Homo sapiens: one gene and its partner. The protein of the gene in region 1 purifies or fractionates together with the protein of each later gene. This does not show direct contact. Each region holds a gene or a part of one and is shown in the gene's direction. Other genes may lie near its edges.

Region 1 (4,943 bases):
TCTTCACTTCTTTCTTAAACAGCAAATCCAGCCAGGTTCAGATTACACAACCAGTGTCTCACTCAAAGGAGCAGTGGTGGCTGGCGCGCTTTCGCACTGTGGCAGCCACGAGAGTCTGTGCACGTCTGTGCTGGAAAGGGTATGGATGGGAATCAAGCCTATGCCAGTGCTGATGAAGCTGGAGGAGTCTCTCCTCTGCTCTCCACTCAGATGTGGGACATCAGTCGCCAAAAGCCACTCAGCCCCAGCCACCTCGCGTGAGACCCTCACTGTTCATTGTGTTCATCTTTGGGTGCTCTCTGCCAGCCAGGCCTTTCCTGCAAGCTGCTGTGCTTCCCCGTCCACGTGTATCTCTGCTGTGACACACTGAGCTGACGCACATTTCCAGTGCAGCTGCAGAAGAGAAATGGGATTGGCTCTTGTTTTCTGCAAGTTCATGTTTTGCATTTTATGTTCTTCCACAATTGATCTGATGTTCAGGAAAAGATAATAAAGGCAAATTAGTTAGTGGTTGAGACAGGCATTTCCTCCTCCCGCTTCTTGACCCCACAGATGTATTCCAGCAGAGAGCAACACACCAGTCATCAAAACCCACTGGCTCCTGTGCGGTGTCACAGATTGCAGGGTTCTGACAAGGCAGGACAGTCAAGAGTGGGGACACTTTCAGCTTCTACTTTTGCCTTCTAGGGGGAGCTTTCTAAGTCCCCACATTTACCCCGAGTCACCGGAAAAATCTGATTTTTCCCCCGAAAGCTCAATGACTTTAACGTGCTTGGCTGGTTTGTCTCATTCTTTATGAAAGAATTTTGGGGCCGGGCGCGGTGGCTTATGCCTGTAATCCCAGCACTTTGGGAGGCCGAGGCAGGTGGATCACGAGGTCAGGAGATCGAGACCATCCTGGCTAACACGGTGAAACCCTGTCTCTACTAAAAATACAAAAAAATTAGCCAGGCGTGGTGGCGGGCGCCTGTAGTCCCAGCTACTTGGGAGGCTGAGGCAGGAGAATGGCGGGAACCTGGGAGGCGGAGCTTACAGTGAACCGAGATCACACCACTGCATTCCCGCCTGGGCAGCAGAGCGAGACTCCGTCTCAAACAGAAAAAAAAAGAGAATTTTGAATCTCCTTTCCCAAAGAGTCATCTTTTCTGCTGTGTTTAGGACATTTGATTTGCATATCCAATATCTCCTCGAAACCTTCAGAAAATGGTTTTATCGTGACTGTGATTCACACTATCTAGAACACTTTACCAGCACCCAGGGACATGGACTTGGGTGTTCTTATTTATGGTGTGTATGTAAAGAGATAGGGGAGAAAAACCTCACCCAAGTTCTTATACGTTATTTTAAACGTTTGCCAACTCTGAAATTTCAGAGATTCATTGTTCTTAACCATATTGGACTAAAGTCTGTTGGTTAGTGCTGTTGTAAAAGAGACCTCTGGGGCCGAGTGTGGTGGCTTATGCCTGTAATCCCTGCACTTTGGGAAGCCAAGGCGGGCAGCTCACCTGAGGTCAGGCGTTCAAGACCAGCCTGGCCAACATGGTGAAACCTCGTCTGTACTAAAAATACAAAATTTAGCTGAGTGTGGTGGCAGGCGCCTGTAATCCAGCTACTCGGGAGGCTGAGGCAGGAGAATCACTTGAACCCAGGAGGTGGAGGTTGCAGTGAGCCGAGATCACGTCACTGCATTTCAGCCTGAGCGACAGAGTGAAACTGTCTCAAAAAAGAGAGACTTCCGGGACAGTCATTATCAGATAGGCCCCAAACCTGTGATTTTTCTTGGGCAAGATTGGTGTTTACTTAGGGGTGCTTTAAAAATATATTTTTACAAGTATACTTGTAGGAAGTTGGTTTTTTATTTTCTATTTTTGTTTGTTTTTGGAGTTTGGTTAAACGACTCTTTTATTTTCTGTTTTGCCTTATCTTACTAAAGTGAAGTTTTCCTAAGGCAAGCAAGAAGAGGAGTGGAAGCACAGTTGCCTGGATTTGGAGGCAGAGTTGTCAGGCTTTTCAAGCTAAGAGTCTTGTGCTTGGATTTTCCAGATTAATTTGAAAAGACCTCCCATTTGTGGCTTTGTACATAACCAACAGGCAGATACTGAGTGCCTTGGCTCCTAGAGTTTTGTGGTTGGGTTAGGTTGTTTTTGTTGTTGTTTTGTTTTGGTTTTGTTTTCATTTCTGAAGTTTAAGATGCCTTGACTTTTTAAATGCTCTTAAGGCTATTCGATGTAATTCTTACTCCTAAAACTGGCTGTTCTTAGCCTGAAATCTAATGCTTTGTTTTTTGTACCTCTCCCAGGTGGGTAACACTCTAGGATGACATGATGTTATAATTTTAGGGGAAATCACATTTTTACCTTATGCTGTTACTGGGCAGAACCACGTTTTATGTAAACATACCAGACATCGGGTAACAGACAGTACTTTAAATGTTATAAATTTGGTGATCAGAACTATTAATAGCATAAATCGAACTCAAATGGAAGCAAAACTGATTTCATGCAGGTCCTGAATTTTACTTTGCCTTAAGAAGTGCCCTCCCCACAATGCAGGAGAGGCACAGAGTGCACTGTCATTGACATGTTACCCGACTAAGGATCACTCTGTTCATAAGAAAAAGGCCTGAAGTGACTCTGTTTAATAAAGTCAGTTTAATTTTATCTAATAATGATCTTAAGACATTCCCATGTCAAAATTTGAAATATGGTAATTCAGTGATAACTATCTCTTCTAAAGCAGCCGTAAACCCTCCCCACTACCCGTCTTTCTCCCAGCTCACCCTGGCTTTTTTTGCTGGGGGTGCTGGATGCAAGCCCCCAGCCAGCACACCTGGGATGCTCACCCTGCCGCACAGTTCAGAAGGCAAGTCCTCACCTGCTCGCAAAGACCCTTCTTCTCCAATAAAAGACTCTACTTGCCTGAGTTTCCTCATCAGGGCTGTCATTCAGTGATGTATGGGGGTCTGAAGAATACTGCCTTCTATCTGTCTTCTGTTTACCACTTGCTCCTCTGCTACCCTCCTGCCGCAAACAGTCTTCTTCCTTTTGGCCCAGTTCTGTCCCGTGAAATTCTCAGAAGGCCTCGGGAGCTGCGCTGATGTATTCTCTCCTTGTTTGATAGCTCATCATCAGTAGATAAGCCTACACACTTCAGAGGGTGACAGGTTTCTTACTTGGAGACTTCACTGCACCTTGACTTGTAGATTTGCCTTCAGACAGCTCTTGGTTATGGTTACAAGTGGCCCCCGAGTCCCAGAATCTTTCCCAGGTTGCCCCAGAAAGACCAGCCACCTGTCACAGGTGCAGTTGTCCGGCAATAGGGAAGCAACTTCATTTTTGTTTTATATTTATTCCCTCAAGTGCCCTGAGGAGCATTTGCAAACTGGGTACAATAAATAAGCTGGATTATACAAAGATATTTAATAAATAAGCTTTCAGTATCTATTGGAAGACATGAAGCATTTGAGTGGGTTTCTTTATTTAAAAAATTATTCTACTGGAGCTGGTGAGAAATAATGAAGCTGTACAGTTCTCCAGAAATTAAAACAATGTCAGAGTCAATGGGAGAATTTAATTTACCTTTAAGATTTCATTTTAATGGTGGCAAAATTATACATTCTTAGAAGATGTAAATTTGGAACTGTTAGGAGATTGCTCTGTGGTTTTGATCTTTTCAAACCATTTTCTTTTTGAAAAAAGGCATTAGTTGTAGTCATGGACATTAAATGGGCCATATATGCTTATCAATCAAAAAAGTGTTCCTTTTTTGGAACTGCCCATTTTCTGGATCTTCCCTCTCAATGGATAGGGGATGAAAACCTTGGTTGCCTTTTATTTGTTTCCTCTTCTAAAATTTCTCACCTGAATGTAGTCCTGGGAGAGTCCCGATCACGTCTCTCCTGACATGTTCACTGAAATCGGAGACAAGAAGTTACATGGATGATGGGATCTTATAGGGTCACACAAAGACAATTTGGCAGCTTATCTTAATTTCCTGCAGTGAGACAACACATGTGGAACTGGGAAGGACAGCTGTTGTTACGAGCAGTTTTTCCTGGTCATGGTTGTAAAGCTCTGTAACCCACATTGTAAAGCCGTGAATGTTTTTAGTCTTGTTGACGAGTTTTTAGAGACTGCTGGACCTCTGAGGGCTTTGAGAGTGCAGCTGTGATGATGTTTCACTATTACTTCAGTGTGAATGTAGAACCAAGGACTCATCTTCATTTTATACCTAAAAGTGCCTTGTCAAGAAATTTTTGCATGTTTTAAAAGATAAATATTTTTGTACACAGAGTTCAAGGGGAAATGCACTTTAAAAATCCCAAGAATGGATGTTCTTTGTGTGGTATGAGAGGTTGGTTTGTATCTCAAAAGCAAAAATGTAATAAAGGAAGACAAAACAAAACTGAAAGTGTCCTTCTATTCTTAGAGCCAGAGTAAGTGGAGAAACATTTCAAATCGATATGTTTCCACATGTAGATCTTAGGTTTCCAAAGAAAAAGCTTGCAGTCAATGGCTGAGTTAAATGTGCAAGGCAGAGAGGAGTTAATTGCTTTAGCATAGCTGAGAAGGTAAGTGCTAGGGAAGAGATACAGGAGCTAGTGTTATTCTGCACCCATTTTTAATGATCCTAGGTCATAGGCATTCTTACCCTGTCATTTGCACTTGAAGTACAGTGCAGACAGACGTATTCAAACAAAAGCAGGAAAACTATAAATGGCTACCATAGCTTTTAACTGCTTGAGCAAACAAACTAAGCAGCAAAACAAAACAGCCCCGGATAGGTAGCGGATAGTCACCCTAAGTGAGATTTCCAGAGCTGCTTTTTTCCAAAGTTCAGGACAAGATGCAGGCAGAGTGGGGGTGGGAAGCTGCATCTAGAAGTTCCATGTCAACAAGTCCTCTGCCACCCTGGGGAAGTGGGCGGTGGCTCCAGTGGAAAGG
Region 2 (7,039 bases), on another chromosome or scaffold:
ATTAGAAATACTATTGTAGAAGGCTGGGCGCAGTGGCTCACGCCTGTAATCCCAGCACTTTGGGAGGCCGAGGCAGGCGGATCATGAGGTCAGGAGATCGAGACCATCCTGGCTAACACGGTGAAACCCCATCTCTACTAAAAATACAAAAAATTAGCCGGGTGTGGCGGCGGGCGCCTGTAGTCTCAGCTACTCAGGAGGGTGAGGCAGGAGAATGGCGTGAACCTGGGAGGCGGAGCTTGCAGTGAGCCAAGATCATGCCGCTGTACTCCAGCCTGGGCAACAGAGCGCGACTCTGTCTTAAAAAAAAAAAAAAAAAAAAGAAATACTGTTGTAGAAAATCATCTAGTGTTTCTAAAGAGATCCCCAAGAAGAGGTTCACACTGGCCCATCAGCATCTGGACTTTTATGTCCAGAAGCACTAAGATTCTGGACATTTATGCTGGCCCTTTGGAATCCCAGTACATTACTGATCTAGGAAAAGGCAGAAAAGATCTATGTGTAGGTCAGTTGGAGAGCAAAAGTAGCTGGGCATGGTGGCTCATGCTCGAAATCTCAACACTTCAGGAGGCCAAGGCAGGAGGATCGCTTGAGGCCAGGAGTTCAAGGCCAGCCTGGGCAACCTGGCAAAACCCATTCTCTATAGAAAATACAAAAATTAACCAGGCATGGTGGTGTGCATATGTTGTCCCAGCTAATCTGGAGGCTGAGGTGGGGGAATCGTTTGAGCTCTGGGGGTCAAGGCTGCAGTGAGCCGTGATCACACCAGTGCACTCCAGCCTGGGCAACAGAGTAAGAGCCTGTCTCAAAAATAAAAAGAGAACAAAAGTATAAAGGGTATGCTGTGATAGACCTGGCCAGAGGTAAGATCACCAATTATAAAAGGGATTGTGCAGAAAGAAGGGGCAGGAATTCAGAAGGCTACCCTTCTGTATGATTCCATACATACGATGTTCTAGAAAAGGCAAAACTGAGGGACAAGGAACACAGCAGTGGTTGCTAGAGATGGGGAGAGGGGTTGATTATAAAAGGATTAACTTCAAGGGGTGAAGAAGCTGTTGTGATGCTGGTTACATTACTTTAGGCATTTGTCAAAACTCAGTACTGTCTGCCAAAAAAGTACATTTTATTGTACATAGATGTGAAAAACCAAGAAGATGAGGGAAACGCTGTTTGTCATTTGATCATGGTTACATAAAGTTCAGAAGAGGGCTGAGCGCAGTGGCTCACACCTATAATCCCAGCACTTTGGGAGGCCGAGGTGGGCAGATCACTTGAGGTCAGGGGTTGAAGACCAGCCTGGCTAACATGGCAAAACCCTGTTTCTACTAAAAATACAAAAATTAGCCGTGCACGGTGGCACACCATGTAGTCCCAGCTACTCAGGAGGCTGAGGCGGGAGAATCGCTTGAACCTGGGAGGTGGAGGTTGCAGTCAGCTGAAATGGTGCCACTGCACTCCAGCCTGGCAACAGAGCGAGATTCTCTCAAAAAAGTGTGTGTGTGTGTGTGTGTGTGTGTGTGTGTAGAAATTGTTCAGATAGTTCAGAAGGTTATACAATGAAAAGAAAAAACCTTTACTCCCACCCCAGGCCCAGTCATGTTCCCCAGATGTCATCACCCTTTAACAGCTCACTCTGTATGTGTATATATAGTGCTGTTCTGTGCCGGCTTTTTTACAGAATTTATCTTGGAGATGTCAGCACATCAGTGCACATAAATCTACCTCATTCTTTTTATCGAGTGCATATTTTCTGACGGGGAGTATTTCCTAATTTACGTGACCAGTCTGCATTAATGGCTATTCAAATGGCCTATGCCAGGAGATAACTGGAAACAAGACAGCAATGAATATTTGTATGCATTCAACTTTGTGCACCTGTCTAAATATAGCTGGCCGTAGGACATAACCGCAAGTGTCATTATTGGGCTGAAGTCATACACAGTTTCCATTTTGATATGGATGATGCCACACTGCCCTCTTGGGAGGTCAACAAATTTGTATTCCTATTAGCTGGCATATGGGAGTTCAACATGCACATAGATATTTGTGAAGTAGGGCCAATTGCAGTGGCTTACACCTATAATCCCAGCACTTTGAGAGGCTGAAGTGGGAGCATTGCTTGAGGCCAGGAGTTTGAGAACAACTTGGGCAACATAGCAAGACCCCATCTCTACAAAAAATTTAAAAAAATTAACCATGCAAGATGACGTATGCCTCTAGTCCCAGCTTCTCAGGAGGCTGAGGTGGGACGATCACTTGAGCCCAGGAATTTGAGGCTACAGTGAACTACAGTGAGCTATCGCACCACCACACACCAGCCTGGGTGACAGGGCAAGACCCAGTCTCAAAAAAAGAAAGAAAAAATCCATGAGTAAAGTATAGTTTGTGACTTGAGTCAAATTTATCCTCACTTTCTGAAAGCATTCACAATAGAAATTTAATTATGAGATGAAAATTAGCAAATTATGTGTTAATAAAGTTGGTATTCTGAGGTTTGTGGGGGCAGTTAAAAAATTTTTGATTTTTAAAGTTAATTTTTACAAATCTTGATTTTTTTTTTGGCCAGGCTCGGTAGCTCCTGCCTGTAATCCTAGCACTTTGGGAGGCTGAGGCAGGTGGATTGCCTGAGCTCAGGAGTTCATGACCAGCCTGGGCAACACAGTGAAACCCCATCTCTACTAAAATACAAAAAATTAGCTGGGTGTGGTGGTGTGTGTCTGTAATCCCAGTTACCCTAGAGGGTGAGGCAGGAGAATCGCTTGAACCTGGGAGGCGGAGGTTGCAGTGAGCCCAGATCGTGCCACTGCACTCCAGCTTGGGCGATAGAGCGAGACTCCATCTAAAAAAAAATTTTTTTTTGATTTTTAAGTTACTTGAGGGGTAAATTTTTTTTAAAGAAAGAATGTATTTCATTTTCCTTGTATTTTTAAAATATTTTTATTGTGGTAAAACATATATACATAAAATTTGCCATTTAAACCATCTTAAGTGCATAATTCAGTGGCATTACTTATATTCACATTGTTGTACAATCATCACCACTATCTGTTTCCAAATCAAATAATATTTTTTAAATTGTGGCAAAATGTACGTAATGTAAAATTCACCATTTTAACCATTTTAAGCATACAGTTCAGTGGCATTAAGTAGATTCACATTTTGGGGAAACATCACTACCATTCATCTTGAGAATTTCTTCATCTTCCTAAACTGAAACTCCTTACCCCAACCTCCCCTTTCCTCACCTCCTGGCAACCTCCGTTCTGCTTTCTGTCTCTGTGGGTTTATCTACTCTAGGTATCCATGTATATTTTTTCTGTGTCAAAAATTGCTTTGAAAAACACATAGTGCAAATTGCAAAGATAAATGTGGGCTCTCTTATAGGAGTGCCACACATTTTACATTTTTCTTTGCTTCTGCTTCTTGGAGTGCATGCTGTTGTCATGGAAAGCAGGCATTCTTTGGTAGCCCAGGTTCTGGAACGGTGCCTAGAATAGCTGCTCACTGTGTTTGCCAGATTAACTGATGGATATATGAAAACAGTATACTGCGTGACAACACCTTTGTTATTCCATAGGACATGGACATCTTCCAGCAACAGATCTCGAGAAGACAGCTGGCTAAAATCCTTATTTGTCCGGAAAGTTGATCCAAGAAAAGATGCCCACTCCAATCTCCTAGCCAAAAAGGAAACAAGCAATCTATACAAATTACAGTGTGAGTGACAGGTTTGCTATCTTCATAGTTGACTTTTTTTCCCCTTTGTTCCTAAGTTTATCGTTGAATTTTCTTTTGTTTCAGTTCACAATGTTAAACCGGAATGCCTAGAAGCATACAACAAAATTTGGTGTGTATACCAAACTATCCTTTACTTGGGGAAAAATAATGACTTTATTTGTTAGTTAATTCCACTAACACTTGATAGCATAGAGAGAGATCTTTCATCCCTCTCTTTTGAAGCTGAACATTCAGAGGCTCTTAAACTGAGCTTCATGTGGGATTGCCGAAGGCGTTTTGATTTTAAGCACTCACACAGCTAAATCATCATATAGGCTATCAGACTTTAGAATGTTACCAGACTCTTGTGTTTGGAGGAACTTTGCCAGGCTGTCTAGTCCATCTACTTATCCAGTGCTGGAGTCCTTTCCACAGACCTTCCTGACTGCCTGTCCTGAAGTAAGTTCCATCTCTGGACAGCTCTGAGTGTTAGGAATAAGAATTCACATCTCTGAGTCCTTCATTGATTCCCCTAAGTAAAACTGCCCTGTGAGAGTCCTGTATGTATTTGAACATAGCTGCCATTTCTTCCCAACTCCTCTGTTCTCCAGGATCCAAGTCCCTTCCGCTGATTCTCCTATGATTTGCGATCTAAACCTGCTTACAGAATTTGTAAACTTTAAGACGAAAGGGGAGAACTAAGCTTACCAGCTTTTAAGTTAACAGAAATAGTATTTTAATGACCCATGGTGAGCAAATGTGAAGAAAAAGGTTTTTAGTTTTGTTTTGTTTTTACCTTTAATATCTACTACGTTCTTAAGAAAGCAAACAATTTTGTCCCTATAATCAGCATACTTTTTAGAAGAAAAACCTTTTGTTTTTTATTGTTTTGTTTTTGAAGATAGCTTATGAAATGTAACAATAGCATTGAATTTCTTGCTCATTCCAGCACATTTCTCTTTATTAAAAAATGCCCTTAAAACAAAGCAGATGTTTATTTCTAAGTCTTTTCTCATAAAAATGGAATTTTTCCCTATGCCGATGTTGTCCTGGATTACCTTTTTTGTCCTGTCTTATCACTTCGTCTCCTGTCTCGGGTTTCTGGCTGTCTGTTCCTATTTCTATTTGATGTTGTGCTCTCACTTCACACCCAGCATGTAGAATCACCTTGCTCTTCCAACTTCCCTGTCTGTGCCACTCACCTTGTTTTACTCAGCCCGTTCCTTAGTTCTCTGTGGTGAATCTGTCACCTAAGCTGTGCATTCTTCATCGGACATGTATTTTGGTTCTCTTGTTTCCTTCTCCATCTCTCTCTCCAAGCCTCTCGAGCCCCATTCCCAAGTAGCTTTTTTTCTGACTACCTTTCTGGGCTCCAAGCTATACCTGTGTCTCCTTCCTGCCCTGCAATACATTACCCCAAAGTTTGTCAGATTGATCTGCTTGAGTTCTGTTTTCTTTTTTCATCACGTTTTTTCTTTTCTCTGAAACTTTCAGCAGCTCCCTGTTTGCAGAACATAAAGACTTAACTCCTGCCTGGTTTTTAGGGGTCCCAATAATGGGATTCTGCCCAACCCATCCAGTTCTGGGTACAAGTACTGCCTGCCTTACAATCTCCATTCAGGTAAGGCCAGGGCTCCTAAGAGCAGGTTTGGGGTCCCCAGCAAAGAGGAGTGGCTACAAATCCATGCGTGACTTTGTGTTGGTGAAAAACCTGGGCCCCGTTGCCAGGCCCCTTTCTGGACCCCACCTGAATCATGTGTACTGGGCTTCCTCCTGGGCACTGCCTCCAATGCAGGGTTGTCTATTCCTGCTCATGTCATGCGACGAAAAGGAAATGTTGGACATACATTTCCCTAGCAGAATCCCTCTTTCCCTGTCCTCGATTTTCATTGATCCCATGTTATTTCTGAACATTCATGAGTCACGCATCAGATACATTTAATATCAGATCCTAATTTAAAAAGTAAATGCTACTCTTCCAAAAGTACACATGATGTGGTCACTATACTGGGTCATAAAGATGTATGGGTTTTCAGTTAGTTAGACTTAGACCGTTTTGGAACTTTTCTCTGTTAACCATTTATGTATCCCTGGTCGTATGGAGCTCCAGTGGTGCAGTCGGTTAGCACATGGTACTTACATACCCTTGGTCCTGTAGCCCCAGCATCTGGTGGTGATCACTAGCTAAATATCAGAGTCAGCAAATAGTGTGAACAGGTTCCATTTCTTGCCCTTGATCCCCTTTTGCATCCATTGTTGAATCTGTATGATACTTTTTCATCATAATTTTTCTATTCAAAAAGTGTGCAGGTTTTAGCTTTTCTCTTGGTGTAAAACAGTTACACTCTTCCCTTTGCCTTTCCCTGTACATTAGAATCTATACCATAGGAAAGCTTCCATGGAACCAAGCTCCACTCTGACACCCCTGTTAAATTCATACACTGCCGTGACCTGTCATGGCTTTGTCCCTGTCCCTGCACAATGCGCGGGAATGAATTGGTTGGTGTGTTCGGTGCGAGACTACGTGACACCCCTCCCATCCCCTTGGCCCATTGAATTGAGTAGAACATAATTTATGCTTCGCATTGTATCTTTAATTTTTATTCTTCTGCCATGTTGATGCCCTTGGGGAGTATTGGAGGTTGGAGTCGCTTCCAGACTATGTTGTGTTCCAGCTGTCTTCTTGCTCCTTCCTGAAGGCCAGCTTGTTCTCTGCTCCTGTTACCTCTGCCTGCTGGTACTGCTTGTGTTGTCTGCCTCTGTCTTGAACATTACTTTCCTCCCTTTCCATCTTCCTTATTTCTTCTGTGTTCTTTTCTACTATTCCCCGTCTCTCATTCTTCTGTCTTTGGAACCAACAGAATGTTTTTTGGTGATGTCGTTTTTTTTCCCCTCAAATGGAAAATAGTAGACCCATAGCTCCCAAAATCCTGGGACCTTTGGTTTTTCTTTATCATCATTATACTGATTGAACAACTCTTCTAGATAGTTGGGGTATCAGAAACCTAAGCTTCTGATCAGCAGGGTGTTGGAATACAACATAATTCAGCTAAAAGGTTAACTCCACATGCCGTTTTATCATGATGTTCTAAGGTCAGTTGTTAGAACACAGAGTAGGTGGTCTTTTTCCTGTTACTGATCAGGTGCTGTCCACCTGGTCAAATTTTGCTGGTTGTTTAATTAGTGTTGCTGTTTCTTCTCTTTAAGTCAAGAGGTGTTGCCAAAGATTCACGAAGATAAACACTACCCTTGTACTTTGGTGGGGACTTGGAACACGTGGTATGGCGAGCAGGACCAAGCTGGTAGGAAGCGAAGTCTT

The links. The genes of interacting proteins can lie anywhere in the genome.
Region 2: the proteins of PPP1R3B (region 1) and NIPSNAP2 purify together in Homo sapiens (affinity purification with mass spectrometry; 2 studies listed by BioGRID and IntAct, with this or other methods). This does not show direct contact.

The regions. Positions count from the first base shown.
Region 1 is NC_000008.11:9,135,716-9,140,658, reverse strand, and holds the end of PPP1R3B (protein phosphatase 1 regulatory subunit 3B), read left to right. Parts: 3' UTR 1-4,404; downstream 4,405-4,943. UniProt on the Homo sapiens protein: Acts as a glycogen-targeting subunit for phosphatase PP1. Facilitates interaction of the PP1 with enzymes of the glycogen metabolism and regulates its activity.
Region 2 is NC_000007.14:55,974,546-55,981,584, forward strand, and holds part of NIPSNAP2 (protein NipSnap homolog 2), read left to right. Parts: intron 1-3,580; coding exon 3,581-3,720; intron 3,721-3,804; coding exon 3,805-3,850; intron 3,851-6,927; coding exon 6,928-7,022; intron 7,023-7,039. UniProt on the Homo sapiens protein: Protein involved in mitophagy by facilitating recruitment of the autophagy machinery required for clearance of damaged mitochondria.